Linked DNA regions of Homo sapiens. The protein of the gene in region 3 interacts with the protein of the main gene of each other region in a biochemical or structural test. Each region holds a gene or a part of one and is shown on either strand. Other genes may lie near its edges.

What was found. The genes of interacting proteins can lie anywhere in the genome.
Region 1: the proteins of PTGES3 (region 3) and FES form a complex in vitro, tested with the Homo sapiens proteins (one study listed by BioGRID).
Region 2: the proteins of PTGES3 (region 3) and ARNT form a complex in vitro, tested with the Homo sapiens proteins (one study listed by BioGRID).
Region 4: the proteins of PTGES3 (region 3) and AHR form a complex in vitro, tested with the Homo sapiens proteins (one study listed by BioGRID).

The regions. Positions count from the first base shown.
Region 1 is NC_000015.10:90,887,504-90,891,003, forward strand, and holds part of FES (tyrosine-protein kinase Fes/Fps), read left to right. Parts: intron 1-1,802; coding exon 1,803-1,940; intron 1,941-2,013; coding exon 2,014-2,133; intron 2,134-2,336; coding exon 2,337-2,459; intron 2,460-2,588; coding exon 2,589-2,775; intron 2,776-2,862; coding exon of another isoform or gene 2,863-2,897; coding exon 2,898-2,981; intron 2,982-3,478; coding exon 3,479-3,500. UniProt on the Homo sapiens protein: Tyrosine-protein kinase that acts downstream of cell surface receptors and plays a role in the regulation of the actin cytoskeleton, microtubule assembly, cell attachment and cell spreading.
Region 2 is NC_000001.11:150,814,100-150,817,599, reverse strand, and holds part of ARNT (aryl hydrocarbon receptor nuclear translocator), read left to right. Parts: intron 1-166; coding exon 167-239; intron 240-397; coding exon 398-518; intron 519-709; coding exon 710-812; intron 813-1,193; coding exon 1,194-1,341; intron 1,342-3,360; coding exon 3,361-3,500. UniProt on the Homo sapiens protein: Required for activity of the AHR. Upon ligand binding, AHR translocates into the nucleus, where it heterodimerizes with ARNT and induces transcription by binding to xenobiotic response elements (XRE).
Region 3 is NC_000012.12:56,674,508-56,678,566, forward strand, and holds part of PTGES3 (prostaglandin E synthase 3), read right to left. Parts: intron 1-4,059. UniProt on the Homo sapiens protein: Cytosolic prostaglandin synthase that catalyzes the oxidoreduction of prostaglandin endoperoxide H2 (PGH2) to prostaglandin E2 (PGE2).
Region 4 is NC_000007.14:17,340,152-17,343,651, reverse strand, and holds part of AHR (aryl hydrocarbon receptor), read right to left. Parts: coding exon 3,424-3,500; intron 732-3,423; coding exon 588-731; 3' UTR 1-587. UniProt on the Homo sapiens protein: Ligand-activated transcription factor that enables cells to adapt to changing conditions by sensing compounds from the environment, diet, microbiome and cellular metabolism, and which plays important roles in development, immunity and cancer.

The DNA.
Region 1 (3,500 bases), on a different chromosome or scaffold from region 3:
GGGCCAAGGATTGGAAACAGGCAACTTACCTCTGAATTACACTATTCCAGGGTCTCATTATTCCAGGGTTTTATTACATTCATTGAGCACTGTTCTGGGCTCTGGATTATACCAGAGAACGATGGTAGACAAAAACATCTGTCCTCAGGGATCTTTCGTGTTAGTGGAGTGAGGATGTGAGGAGCACTAAGAGCCATGGAGAAAAATAAAGCAAGAGAAGTGGATCGGGACCTGGGAGCACGGAGGCAAGGGAGGAGGTGACAGTTGTCCATAGAGTGATCTGGGAAAGCCTCTTGAGAGGTGACATTCAAAGAGGCCCCTGAGAGGGGTACGGGAGTGAATCATGGGGCTATTTGGAGAAAGACCATTCCAGAAAGGAGGACAGCAATTACACAGGCCTTGAGGTAGGAGAGTACCAGGGACTAATAGCCAGGAACCAGTGGTGCCTCTGAGAGTGAGGGAGGGGGAGAGTCATACACGAGGCTGGAGGAGGCAGGCGTCAAGGGCTACTGGGTGATAGAGGGTCTAGCAGGGCCATGGTGAGGACTTTGGCTCTGGGTGAACAAGAATGGCATGATCTGACCTCTGTTTTTTTGTTTCATTTTGTTTTAACTTTTTTTGAGTCAGAGTCTCGCTCTGCCGCCCAGGCTAGAGTGCAGTGGCATGATCTCGGCTTACTGCAACCTCCGCCTCCCAGGTTCAAGTGATTCCCCTGCCTCAGCCTCCCGAGTAGCTGGAACTACGGGCATGCGCCACCACACCCAGCTAATTTTTGTATTTTTAGTAGAGATGGGGTTTCACCATGTTGCCCAGGCTAGTCTCTAATTCCTGGGCTCAAAGCGATTTGCCTGCCTCTGCCTCCCAAAGTGCCGGGATTACAGGCATGAGCCACCATGCCCAGCCCTGACCTCTGTTTTAATAAGGCCACTCTGGCTGCTGTGCTGCAAATAGACTTCAGGGAGCAAGGACAGAAGCTGGGAGGCCAGAGAGCAGGCTCTTGCCATAATCCAGATCCAAGCTTTTGGCCACTAGGACGGGGAGGTAGCAATGGAGGTGAGGCGCGGTCAGGTCCTGGAAGGTGAAGCCAGTGGGATTTCCCTATGGATTGGAAGTGGGGCGTGAAATAGAGGAGTCAGGGGTCACTCTGGGGATTTGGCCTGGAGCAGCTGGAAGATGGAGTGGCTGTTAACTTATGTAGGGAAGGCTGTGGGAAGAAGAGGTTTAGGAGACAAGGATAGCAGTTCATTTATTTATTTATTTATTTATTTATTTATTTATTTATTTATTTATTTAGAGATGTAGTCTCATTCTTTCGCCAGGCTGGAGTGCAGTGGCGCGATCTTGGCTCACTGCAACCTCCACCTCCCAGGCTCAAGCGATTCTCTTGCCTCAGCCTCCCGAGTAGCCAAGTAGCTGGGACTACAGGCATGTGCCACCATGCCTGGCTAATTTTTGTATTTGCTTTTTCAGTAGAGATGGGGTTTCACCACGTTAGCCAGGCTGGTCTCGAACTGACCTCAGGCAATCCACCCGCCTCGACCTCCCAGTGTTGGTATTATAGGCGTGAGCCACTGTGCCTGGCCCACTGGATCCTTATTACAACTGCCAGTGTCCCTCTTATATATATCAGGAAATAGAAGATTAGGGAGAGGTTAAATAATTTGCCTAGAGTGGCATGGCTAGCTCGAAGTGAGGCAGGGGTCAACCCCAGCCCTGACTCCAAACCCAGGGTCCTAGGCCTGAACTGCCCAGCCTTGCCCAGCCTGAGGCTCCCCTGACTGGGGATCCCGTCTCGGGGGCAGGAAGGAGATCCTGCAGGAATACCTGGAGATTAGCAGCCTGGTGCAGGATGAGGTGGTGGCCATTCACCGGGAGATGGCTGCAGCTGCTGCCCGCATCCAGCCTGAGGCTGAGTACCAAGGCTTCCTGCGACAGTATGGGTAAGCCCCGTCCTTGCTCCTGCTGGGCCCAGGGCTGCTGGCCTGTCCACTGACGGGGCGCTGTCCCCCACAGGTCCGCACCTGACGTCCCACCCTGTGTCACGTTCGATGAGTCACTGCTTGAGGAGGGTGAACCGCTGGAGCCTGGGGAGCTCCAGCTGAACGAGCTGACTGTGGAGAGCGTGCAGCACACGTGGGTGGTGGCTTTGCACCTGGGCTGCGGCGGGGCTCCCAGCAGACCACGAGTGTTTATGTAGGCAGGGCTAGGTCGTGGAGACTGTCCACACAGAGCTGTCACCAGGTGGCCGGGCTTGCTTGGCTCTACAGGGATGCACTGGACCTGGGTTGAGGGGGCAGGAGGGCTCGGTTCTAATGCTGCCCTTCTCTTGGGTGCAGGCTGACCTCAGTGACAGATGAGCTGGCTGTGGCCACCGAGATGGTGTTCAGGCGGCAGGAGATGGTTACGCAGCTGCAACAGGAGCTCCGGAATGAAGAGGAGAACACCCACCCCCGGGAGCGGTGAGTGGGCCCCTGCCTGCAGCAGCCTCCTGGGCCTCCCTCCCTCCTACCTACCCTAACTGCTGCTGGCTACCCGCCGCAGACCGAGCCCTTATTCTCATCCACCCTCCCACCCGCCCCTGCCTGCAGGGTGCAGCTGCTGGGCAAGAGGCAAGTGCTGCAAGAAGCACTGCAGGGGCTGCAGGTAGCGCTGTGCAGCCAGGCCAAGCTGCAGGCCCAGCAGGAGTTGCTGCAGACCAAGCTGGAGCACCTGGGCCCCGGCGAGCCCCCGCCTGTGCTGCTCCTGCAGGATGACCGCCACTCCACGTCGTCCTCGGTGAGCTGCCCCATCCGCGGCCGCTGCCCGCCACCGGCCTGCCCACCTGGGGCTGCGCTCCTCATTTTCGCCCTCCCCCTCCCTAAGCCTGGCCACCCGCTGACGTCTGTCCCTGGCCTCAGGAGCAGGAGCGAGAGGGGGGAAGGACACCCACGCTGGAGATCCTTAAGAGCCACATCTCAGGAATCTTCCGCCCCAAGTTCTCGGTGAGTGGCGCCCAGCCTGGGCCCCCCTACTGTTGTGTTTCGAGTTTAATCACTGGGATGTCCTAGAGAGGAGGCTCTGCCCAGGCTGCTTGTATTGGGAAGTTCCTCTCTTCCCTGGGATTCCAGGCTGCAGATGTCCCCAGACCCTGCCCCTGTGACCCCTCCCTTTCCATCGCCCCAGTGTGCTAAAGGGACCAGCAACCTCGACTATTCCATGGCTCTCCCTGCTTCAGGAGCGGGTTGGGGGCCTGTGGCCTGGAGGAGGAGGCACCAGCTTGGTTTGGGGTCTTCCTGCCTGGGCTTCCCTTCCCAGCTCTGCCCAGCGTGAGCCTGGGCCAGTCCAGTGCCCACTCCAGGGGCCTGTGGATGGCTCTGCATGCCACTCCATGGTTGTAAGGGCTGAGGGCATATAGGGGGGAGAGAGAGACCCCCGGCTGCCCCCACGGCCTCTTCAACAAGGTGGTTAAGTGACTCCTCCTCGATCCTCCCTTGCCCAGCTCCCTCCACCGCTGCAGCTCA
Region 2 (3,500 bases), on a different chromosome or scaffold from region 3:
CTGACCTCAGGTGATCCACCTGCTTCGGCCTCCCAAAGTGTTGGGATTACAGGCATGAGCCACCATGCCCGGCCTGTTTAATTTGTTTTAAGGTTCTTTCTCCAGATTCTTTTTTAAAAAAAATTTTTTTTTCTATTTGTCTTGTCAACTGGCCTTTGACATATAGGCAGCAGCAACAGCAAACAGAATTGGACATGGTACCAGGAAGAGATGGACTGGCCAGCTACAATCATTCCCAGGTGAGTTGTGTCCTCTTCGTTGAAGAGGGTAGGGAGTATTTACTTAGGAAGTGTTCTCCGGTACTAGTTAGAATGTACATATGTTGTATATGAATTTTAGGGTTATTGAATTGTCATGTTAAATCTTTAATGGTTATTTTTATCATTGTATTCCACAGGTGGTTCAGCCTGTGACAACCACAGGACCAGAACACAGCAAGCCCCTTGAGAAGTCAGATGGTTTATTTGCCCAGGATAGAGATCCAAGATTTTCAGAAATCTATCACAACATCAATGCGGGTATGTTTCTTTCTCATTATCCTTTTAAATTCTCATTTAGATCACTTACTGATGGGCATGCCACTGCCCAGTCAGTAATCTTCCAGTGTTTTTCCACTTAATCATAATACCACCTGAGTAAATAGGAACTTGCTGAACTAATATACTACAGCCCCTTGACTGGCCCTTCCCCAACTCCTTTTGGTCCACAGATCAGAGTAAAGGCATCTCCTCCAGCACTGTCCCTGCCACCCAACAGCTATTCTCCCAGGGCAACACATTCCCTCCTACCCCCCGGCCGGCAGAGAATTTCAGGTGAGCCCCGTATATATGTGCTGCTTTACAGGGCCCTGAGGGATTCAGCTGCTGAATCCAAATTTTATTCTTCCCTTGCTTTCTCTGGTTACTTCAGAAAAAGCAGTGAAGCTTGTAGGGCCTAGCGTGAGGCAAACAAGCTGCTTTTCTTCCTCCTATTTCTTTGCACCTGTCCTATTGCCATGTTCTAGGCTCCATCTCTGTGTGTCCTGGTCAGTGTGTGACTGTCAGTCTTTCTTGTCTTTTCCAAATTGTTATCAAATTTTCCTTAACCTGCAGGAAGTCAAGGGGATCTAGGGATAGCACTAGATTGTCCTTTGATTCCTAGCTTCTGTGATAAATCTATCCTTTTAATCTTTTACCTCATTTATTCACTCCTAGGAATAGTGGCCTAGCCCCTCCTGTAACCATTGTCCAGCCATCAGCTTCTGCAGGACAGATGTTGGCCCAGATTTCCCGCCACTCCAACCCCACCCAAGGAGCAACCCCAACTTGGACCCCTACTACCCGCTCAGGCTTTTCTGCCCAGGTAAAACTTATCATCTGTGTGTTCCCTGTGTATTATTTTTTGTTTGTTTGGGCTTTTTTCCGTATGTAAAATCAGTGTTTTCTATTTTAAATACCTTCTCCCCAACCCCTGTTCTCCGGTTTCCAATTTCCATCTTTGTTGAGAGTAGCTAATTAAAAATCACAGATAATAAAAAAAAATCTCAGTAGAGTCTGTGGTTTTCACCTTAAATCAGAATTGCTCACTTGGAACGTTTTGAGCACGTCTGATTTTCAGATTTGTTTTGGAGTAAATTCTAAGATGTTTCCTCTTTGTTTAGGACTCCATAAGGCAGGAGCAAAGGAGAAAATTAATGACTAACTTACAGTGATGTCTGTTTACAAAAAAGTTGAAAAATTCTTTTTTTTTTTTTTTTTGAGACAGAGTCTTGCTCTGTCGCCCAGGCTAGAGTGCAGTGGTGCGATCTTGGCTCACTGCAAGCTCTGCCTCCCGGGTTCACGCCATTCTCCTGCCTCAGCCTTCCAAGTAGCTGGGACTTGTACAGGCGCCCGCCACTGCGCCTAATTTTTTTTTTTTGTATTTTTAGTAGAGATGGGGTTTCACCATGTTAGCCAGGATGGTCTCAACCTCCTGACCTTGTGATCCGCCCACCTCAGCCTCCCAAAGTGCTGGGATTACAGGCGTGAGCCACCGCGCCTGGCTGAAAAATTCTTTTTTTTTTTTTTTCTTGAGACAGACTGTCACTTTGTTGCCCAGGCTCTGGAGTGCAGTGGCGCGATCTCGGCTCACTGCAAGCTCCGCTTCCTGGGTTCATGCCATTCTCCTGCCTCAGCCTCCCGAGTAGCTGGGACTACAGGGTGCTCGCCACCACGCCTGGCTAATTTTTTGTATTTTTAGTAGAGACGGCATTTCACCGTGTTAGCCAAGATGGTCTTGATCTCTTGACCTCGTGATCCGCCCTCCTCGGCCTCCCAAAGTGCTGGGATTACAGGCATGAGCCACCGCATCCAGCCGAAAAATTCTTTTATAATATTCATATATATAATATAACGCACAATAAATACACTGTCTAAAGAAAGATTCTTTAATATTACTATATATTTATGTTATACAAGTAATAGTTTTAAAAAGTCAAAACCAAAAGCAGGTTCCAGAATGTTATATGCAATACGATCTCAATTGTGTACAAAATGCATGAGAAAATAGAAACTGGAAGAAATTATCCAAACATGTTAACCATGGAATTATGAATGATTCTTATTTTCTTTATATTTTCCTTCACTTTCTGAATATTCTATAATGCATATACAGAACTCTCATGAGAAAATAGTTTTTATAAAAAATACATCATTAGGAACAAATGAATGCAGAACAGACAGAATAATGGTGCAGAGTAGTTTTTCTCTGCATATGGTACTTTTTTTGTTGTTTGTTTTTTTGAGACAGAGTCTCGCTGTTGCCCAGGCTAGAGTGCAGTGGCGCGATCTTGGCTCACTGCAACCTCTGTCTCCCGGGTTCAAGTGATTCTCCTGCCTCAGCCTCCTGGGTTGCTGGGATTACAGGCACGTGCCACCATGCCCAGCTAATTTTTGTATTTTTAGTAGAGACGGGGATTTCACCATGTTGGCCCGGCTGGTCTGGAACTCCTCACCTCAGGTGGTCTGCCTGCCTTGGCCTCCCAAAGTGCTGGGATTATAGGCATGAGCCATGAGCCACCCCGCCTGGCCTGCATATAATACTTTACTGTTATGAATGCCTCTAGTTTTATATAACTTCACAGTTTATAAGATGCTTTCATTTAATTCTTACAATTTTTATTAATCCCATAGTTCATTGCTTTTTTGTAATTTTATCTCAGCTGCCTAAAAAATAGTGTCAAGAGAGATTGAGAGTTAATTGGAAGAAATATACAATAGGAAATAAGTGATGAGCTTGGTTCAGAAGGATGCAGTGATTGACAGTGTTGACTCTCATAGGCATGGTATGTGCAATGATGTTAATGCTGTATTTGTTCTATATCCCCTCTCCATCTCTCTTTAGCAGGTGGCTACCCAGGCTACTGCTAAGACTCGTACTTCCCAGTTTGGTGTGGGCAGCTTTCAGACTCCATCCTCCTTCAGCTCCATGTCCCTCCCTGGTGCCCCAACTGCATCGCCTGGTGCTGCTGCCTACCCTAGTCT
Region 3 (4,059 bases):
CGGAGAAACTCGTCTCTGCTAAAATTACAAAAAATTCAGGCGGGCACAGTGGCTCACGCCCATAATCCCAGCACTTTGGGAGGCCGAGGCAGGAGGATCACAATGTCAGGAGATTGAGACCATCCTGGCTAACACGATGAAACCCTGTCTCTACTAAAAATACAAAAAATTAGCCAGGCATGGTGGTAGGCGCCTGTAGTCCCAGCTACTCGGGAGGCTGAGACAGGAGAATGGCATGAACCCAGGAGGCGGAGCTTGCAGTGAGCTGAGATCAGGCCACCGCACCCCAGCCTGGGCAACAGAGCAAGACTCCATCTCAAAAAAAAAAAAAAAAAAAAAAAAAAAAATTCGCCAGGCGTGGTGGTGCATGCCTGTAATCTCAGCTACTCAGGAGGCTGAGTCAGGAGAATCGCTTGAACCTGGGAAGTGGAGGTTACGGTGAGCCGAGATCAGGCCATTGCACTCCAGCCTGGGCAACAAGAGTGAAACTCGGTCTCAAAAAAAAAAAAAAAAAAAAAAAGTGCTGGTTCACACCTGTAATCCCAGCACTTTGGGAGGCAGAGGCAGGCGGATCACGAGGTCAGGAGTTCGAGACCAGCCTGGCCAATATAGTAAAACCCCGTCTCTACTAAAATTGCAAAAATTAGCTGGGCGTGGTGGCACGTACCTGTAGTCCCAGCTATTTGGGAGACTGAGCCAGGCCAATCAGTTGAACCCAGGAGGTAGAGGTTGCAGCGAGCCAAGATCACGCCACTGCACTCTAGTCTGGGTGACAGAGCAAGACTCTGTCTCAAAAAAGAAAAAGAAAAAGAAAAAGAAAAAAAGCCTTAGCAAGCTATATGATCATGTCCCAGATAAAACAAATTTAAATTATCAAAACCTGTGGTTAGGCCATGAACCAAAAATGATTCCTACATTTTTTAAATGTATATTTTTAAAAAAACACAGGAGGCGGAAGTTGCAGTGAGCCAAGATCACACTACTGCACTCTAGCCTAGGCAACAGAATGAGACCAAAAAAAAAAAAAAAAAAAATGTGAATGAGATAAGAGATATTTGTGGCCTGCAAAGCTGAATATTTACTGGCTGACCCTTTATACAAGTTGGCTAACACATTAAAACTACAAACAGGGCCGAGTGCGGTGGCTCACGCCTGTAATCTCCAGCACTTTGGGAGGCTGAGATGGGTGCATCACCTAAGGTCAGGAGTTCAGAGACCAGCCTGGCAAACATTATGAAACCCCATCTCTACTAAAAATACAAAAAATTAGCTGGGTGTGGTGATGGGCACCTGTAATCCCAGCTACTCAGGATGCTGCAGCAGGAGAATCGCTTGAAATAAGGAGGTGGAGGTTGCAGTGAGCCCAGACCACGCCATTGCACTCCAGCCTGGACAACAGCGTGAAACTCCGTCTCAAAACACAACACAAAAACTGCAGACCAGGCGCAGTGACTCAAGCCCATGATCCCAGCACTTTGTGAGGCCAAGGCTGATGGATCACCTGGGGCTGGGAGTTTGAGACCAGTCTGACCAACGTGGAGAAACCCCGTCTCTACTAAAAATACAAAATTAGCCAGGCGAGGTGGCGTATGCCTGTAATACCAGCTATTTGGGAGGCTGGGAGGGGGAGGGGGAGGGGGAGGTGGAGGTGGAGGTTGCGGTAAGCCGAGATCACGCCACTGCACTACAGCCTGGGCAACAGAGAGAGGCTGTGTCTCCCCCCCCAAAAAAAAAAAAAAAGCCAAAATAGGATTGGAACCCAGCATTTCTGACAGAAGGCTTATTTTTTTTCACTTCACAAAAAGGGACAATAATTTCTCCAGCGGTCCTTTTATTGCAAAGTAACTAACCATGTCTCTGTACTTCCAGTTTGTTTTATTATATAATCTAAACTAGCTTCTGCATACTTGACAACATGATAATGGAGTCCTGAGAGTCTAAAATTTGTTATGGAGGCAGTGAGAGAGTGATATTTGACCTTGAGTCTTTCTTGAACAAAGAAAAATTCTTTTATCTCCTGGGGATGTTAAAAGAAGAATGCTTCAGGGTCTAAAACCAAAGCAAGAAAGTAATTTTTTTAAAAAAAGAGTGCTCAAAAGACGGAATGTGGAAAGCCACAAGAGTTGCTTGATAGAAAAGTGCTAAGTGGGTATGCGTGGTGGTTCATGCCTATAATCCCAGCACTTTGGGAGGCCAAGGCAGGTAAATCACTTGAAGTCAGCCTGGACAACATGGTGAAACCCCATCGCTACTAAAAATACAAAAATTAGACAGGCATGGTGGCGCGCTCCTATAGTCCCAGCTACTTGGGAGGCTGAAGCACAAGAATCCTTGAACCCGGTGGTGGAGGTTGCAGTGAGCTGAGATCGTGCCACTGCACTGCAGCCTGGGTGAGAGAGTGAGATTCCGACTCAAAAAAAAAAAAAAAAAAAAAAAAAATAGTGCTGGCTAAGTGCGGTGGCTTATGGCAGTAATCTCAGCACTTTGGGAGGCTGAGGTGAGCAGGTCACCTGATGTCAGGAGTTCAAGACCAGCCTGGCCAACCACCGTGGTGAAATCCCGTCTCTACTAAAAATGTAAAAATTAGCTGGGCATGGTGGTGCACACCTGTGATCCCAGCTACTAGGATGGCTGAGGCGGGAGAATTGCTTGAACATGAAAGGCAGAGGTTGCAGTAAGCCAGATAGCGCCACTGCACTCTAGCCTGGGCGACAGAGTGAGACTCCTTCTCCGCACCACCCAAAAAAAAAAAAAAAAGTGCTACATTTTCCATAAAACATTACCTTGAACAGCTTTCACCTTTGTATCTTAGAGTGGAAACTACCACATAAAATAACTCGCTAGGACAGAGGTTCACAAGCCTTCCTGGTATATAGTGCCCTTGGTGTCTGAGGAGTTTTGTTGTGCTCTTAAGCCAAAAGGAGTAACTAGCAGTTGCTTTGATGACATAGCTGTATCCAAGCAACATAACTATATTGTCTTAGCAGCCTAGTAGCTATTGGAAAAACGAATTTACATTATTGGAAAGAAAAATATATATAGTTTCTTATATAACCATACCTATCAATGGAATGTGTATGGCTTTTGGATACTATATAACTTCTCAAACTTTGAAATGACTTCTATCATCTCACTCCTTGTTCCCCATTATTATTATTATTTTTTTTTGGTGGGGTGGGTACCTGTGTTTTTTTGAGTTATAGCAACCACCAGAAATTCAGTTTTTAGAAGATGAAACTTAATGGAGGGGTTTGCAGTACAATCTCATATTGAAACTGAACAACCTGAAACTAATAGTTTGCTTAGTGTCTTGGCTTATGTTGAGTATCACTGAATTACTCTGAAATTTAAAATATCCCAAGGTAGTTGTGAGTTCCTCCATGGGGCCCTGATACATCTTGGCACATGATTTGGTAGCCACAGGCCACAGGACTAGCAGGTTTATTCAGAAAGTTTTATAGTACTACAGCTGATTACAGAAGATCTCAAATATCTTACGGTTTCCCTGAGCAATGAGTATGTGGGAGACAGCTTGGTGTCAGACATTTATAGGCAAGGTGTTTGATACCTAAGAAGGAAAAACCATTTATGAACTCCAGGAACTACTTTTTTCCTTTCCATAGCAGAACTTTGATGTCTCATTCCTCACATATTACAAATAGGTATTTTTAATTTATTTATTATTTTTGAGATGGAGTCTGGCTCTGTCGCCCAGGTTGGAGTGCAGTGGCGTGATCTCGGCTCACAGCAGCTTCTGCCTCCTGGGTTCAAGCAGTTCTCCTTCCTCAGTCCCTTGAGTAGCTGGGATTACAGGCGCCCGCCACCAAGCCTGGCTAATTTTTGTTTTTTAGTAGAGGCAGGTTTTCACCATGTTGGCCAGGCTGGTCTCGAACTCCTGACCTCAGGTGAGCCACCCGCCTCAGCCTCCCAAAGTGCTGGAATTACAGGAGTGAGCCACCATACCCAGCCTGTTTTGTCTTTTATAATAAAATGTGCATTGCACATAGTAAAACTATCAAATGGATTAAAATAACTGGGACACTTTTCCTAGCAAACTGT
Region 4 (3,500 bases), on a different chromosome or scaffold from region 3:
ATATACATCCTAGAGTGTTATAGGTAGAAAAAAATGTGAGGCACTTAGATGAAACAGTGAAGGAGGAAAGCACTGAGATTATCTTTTTATAAAAAGCACCAAACCATTTATTTTAACATCTGAGATAAAAGCAGAGGTTAACATGATAGGAAAAACTAGTTTAGTTCTCTAACTTTGTATTTGGGGAACTAATAAGAATCCAGTAGCTCAAAACTCAAAGTATTTTATTTTTACTGTGACAGAAATAATTCAAATAGAGAATATTTTCTAATTTAAAAGAATCTTAGTTTCCCTGATAAAGTTTTGTATATTTTGTGGTGCCCAGAATAATGTGAAATGTAGACGGTACCTCACCACTCCGTGGCAGCACCCTTTCTATCTTGACTGTAGTATATGTAATTTTGATACCATTTTTAAACTCCCTTTTCTAAAAGCAAAAATTAAAATTTGGTTTGGAATAATTGTGAATAGCATGCATCAATGCCTCCATGTGAACTTGCTGACGTCCAACAGTGACAGTTTTATTTTTCCATAATCCTTCACAAACTAATTTAATCCAAAAACCAGGGTCAAAATTGGGCTTGGAATTACAGGAATCCACTGGATGTCAAATCAGGAAAAGGTCTGGCTTCTGACGGATGATGAAGTGGCTGAAGATGTGTGGTAGTCTGAGTGTTATTTATGTTATTTAATTCAGCTGGATATGTTTCATTTAAAACTCCATTCTGAAACTGAAAACAAAAATGGTGATGCAACTTATTGGAATAGATCTTCCAAGTATCTTAAGCCAGTAAATAACATTAACATGTATTTTTAAAATCTTACCCCTGAGAGTTGTAAACTTCAAGTTCCTTTACTGTTGCTAAATTTTAAATCTTTCACACAGTGAAGACATACTGAGGACATATTATGTATTAGTTGCATTTATAACCTGTTTTTCCATTAATTTGACAGGAAATTTTGAACATGGTACAGATGAGTGATGCAGCTGTCTCATTTCAGATTGCCTTTGGGTCAGGTAGGAATTGATGGGTCAAACAGCACAAGTCACAAATTACAGTTAAATATTCTCTATCATAAGTAGGTTTGCTTTGACCAGGTTTGAAGTTATAGGTATCAATGAATTGATTATATTCAGGAATCTTACACTGGAATGCAAAACTTTTCCAAAAAAGGCAGCTTCTGATTTTCTAAATGTTTCTAAATATTCCTAAAATATTACACCACAGGTATGATTTTCTTAACCGATTTCTTATTCATAATATACTTTTAATTAATGAATACTACTGAAAGCATAGTTCTAATTACAGAATCAAGTTACCAAAAGAAAATGCTCTGTCTTGTTTTCTTACACTGCAATGAATCTGGTTTCTATAACTGCTAGTAGAAAAAAGAAAAATAAAAAGGAAGGACATGAAGATGTATAGCTCTGTAGAGTTTTATAGATTACAGAGCCTTTATATTTTAGTTAGTGGACGTTCTGGAAACTTTAAAACAGATTAAAATCATATCCTTAATTGCTTCAAATAAAATCTACCTTTGTAAAGCCTACATAACTGGCTTCAGTAATCAAAATGTTAATTACTTCACAGATCCTCCAAAACATATATAAAATCTATAGTAAAAATCATATAACCTGTATCTTCAATGAATGGCAACACTGTAAATTCTTTAAATAAAAAGTTAGTATTACCTGGCCAGATAATGGTGAGTTTAAAATGATTTTTTCTCATTACTCATAACACAATTCATGTCACCATTCTCTTTAAACATACTGTACACAGCAGTGTAATCCAATAGAAATATAATGTGAGCCACATACAGAACTTAAATTTTTGGCTACAGTAGATTAAATAAAATACATTTCTAAAGTTAATTTTACCTGTTTCTTTTTACTTTTGTAATGCGGCTACTGAAAAAACTAATCATTTCAACATGAAATCAATAATAAAAGATGAGATATTTTACATTCTTTTTTCAAGCCAAGTCTTCAAAATCCAAAAATCCAATGTGTACTTCACACAGCACATCTCAATTTGGACTAGCCACATTTCAAGTGCTGAACAGCTACTCAGTGGCTCAATATTGAGTGTCTTAGCTCAATAACATGTACTCTGGAACATATGTAGGTCTATAGAATTATTTGGTTATTTACAAAGAAGCAGTGAAAAGTAGTGAGGGGAAAACACTGCAAAGAACTTATGTGGTACTCATGCAACTCCTTATTCAAAATGTAATTTTACAGAATTAACTTCTGTACAATTTGCTTTACTCAAGAGTAAAATATACTTTCATAGCAATTTTGTGAGACGGACTATAACTGAATATTATTCAATTTTAATATAATTGAAGGATGTAAGGAATAAGAAAAATTTTCACTGTCCTTTTCTATTAAAAAGCTCATATACGATTAGACAAGCAAAATGTATGAAAAAGCCAGAAAATACAATTAAAGATAAAGCTTCAGGTCATACTTTTAATTATTATACTCTAATACAGAGTAAACAGGGGTCAAGGAGCTTAATTTTAGTCAAGATATTCTTTAAAACTAAACTTAAATATACTTTAAAATGAACTAAATATTTTCTAATGGAAAAAGCATAAATGCAAACATGATGTATTCCTGAGTGGCCAGAGACAGCAGTTACTGACATTATGTTAACTTTTTTTTTTTAAGTGATCATTTTTAGATTTAAAGTGTGCTCACTGCCAGACGGATTCTGATGACACATTTAAACAACAAAAATGCACTATCAAGCTTGATTTCCATGACAGAAAGCCAGCTGAGTTACCTCTTTTAAGAAAGCCAGAAAAGAAAGCCATTCTACCTTAAAGGATGAGATGAGGATAGGGGAGGTAATGTGGAGGAATAGCTAGAGAACATGGAGGTGCCTAGGACTGAATTCCAGGGATATAATTAATCTAGGGTTTCAGAGGCATTGTAAGAAAGCACACTTAAATTTGAGTTTAACTCAATTTCAAACATATATAAAAAAATAGAGCTTTGAAGAAATTATTCTTAAAAATTGCAATACGTTTTTTAAAGCTTGAATTTTTAAATAGCCATATAATTTTTAAAGAATCCAGAAAGAATAAACCAAATTATCTATTTTAAACAAAATACTTCTAAAAACTAATTTCACCTGGTAATTTAGGTCATCTTATATTAAGGACACATTCATGTTGCTTCATTCCTTGATATCTTTCTCCCTCATGAATCAGGTGAATGATATATTAGTAACATACTGGAAAAAGTACAGGCTTGTAAAAAAAAAAAAGGTAGTCACAGATATAATAAAAAATGCTGTCTCCATGAATGCTGTAGATAACCGATTAAAATCAGCTGACATAAAAAATGTGTAACATGTCTATAAGGTAAAAAGAATCACTGAAAGATTTAATTCAGTTTGATAACACCCTTACCTTGTTTAAAAATGCCTGTTGGCCTGGCAGTACTGGATTGTACTGCATCTGACCCACGTGGGTGTGCTGAGGTTCTG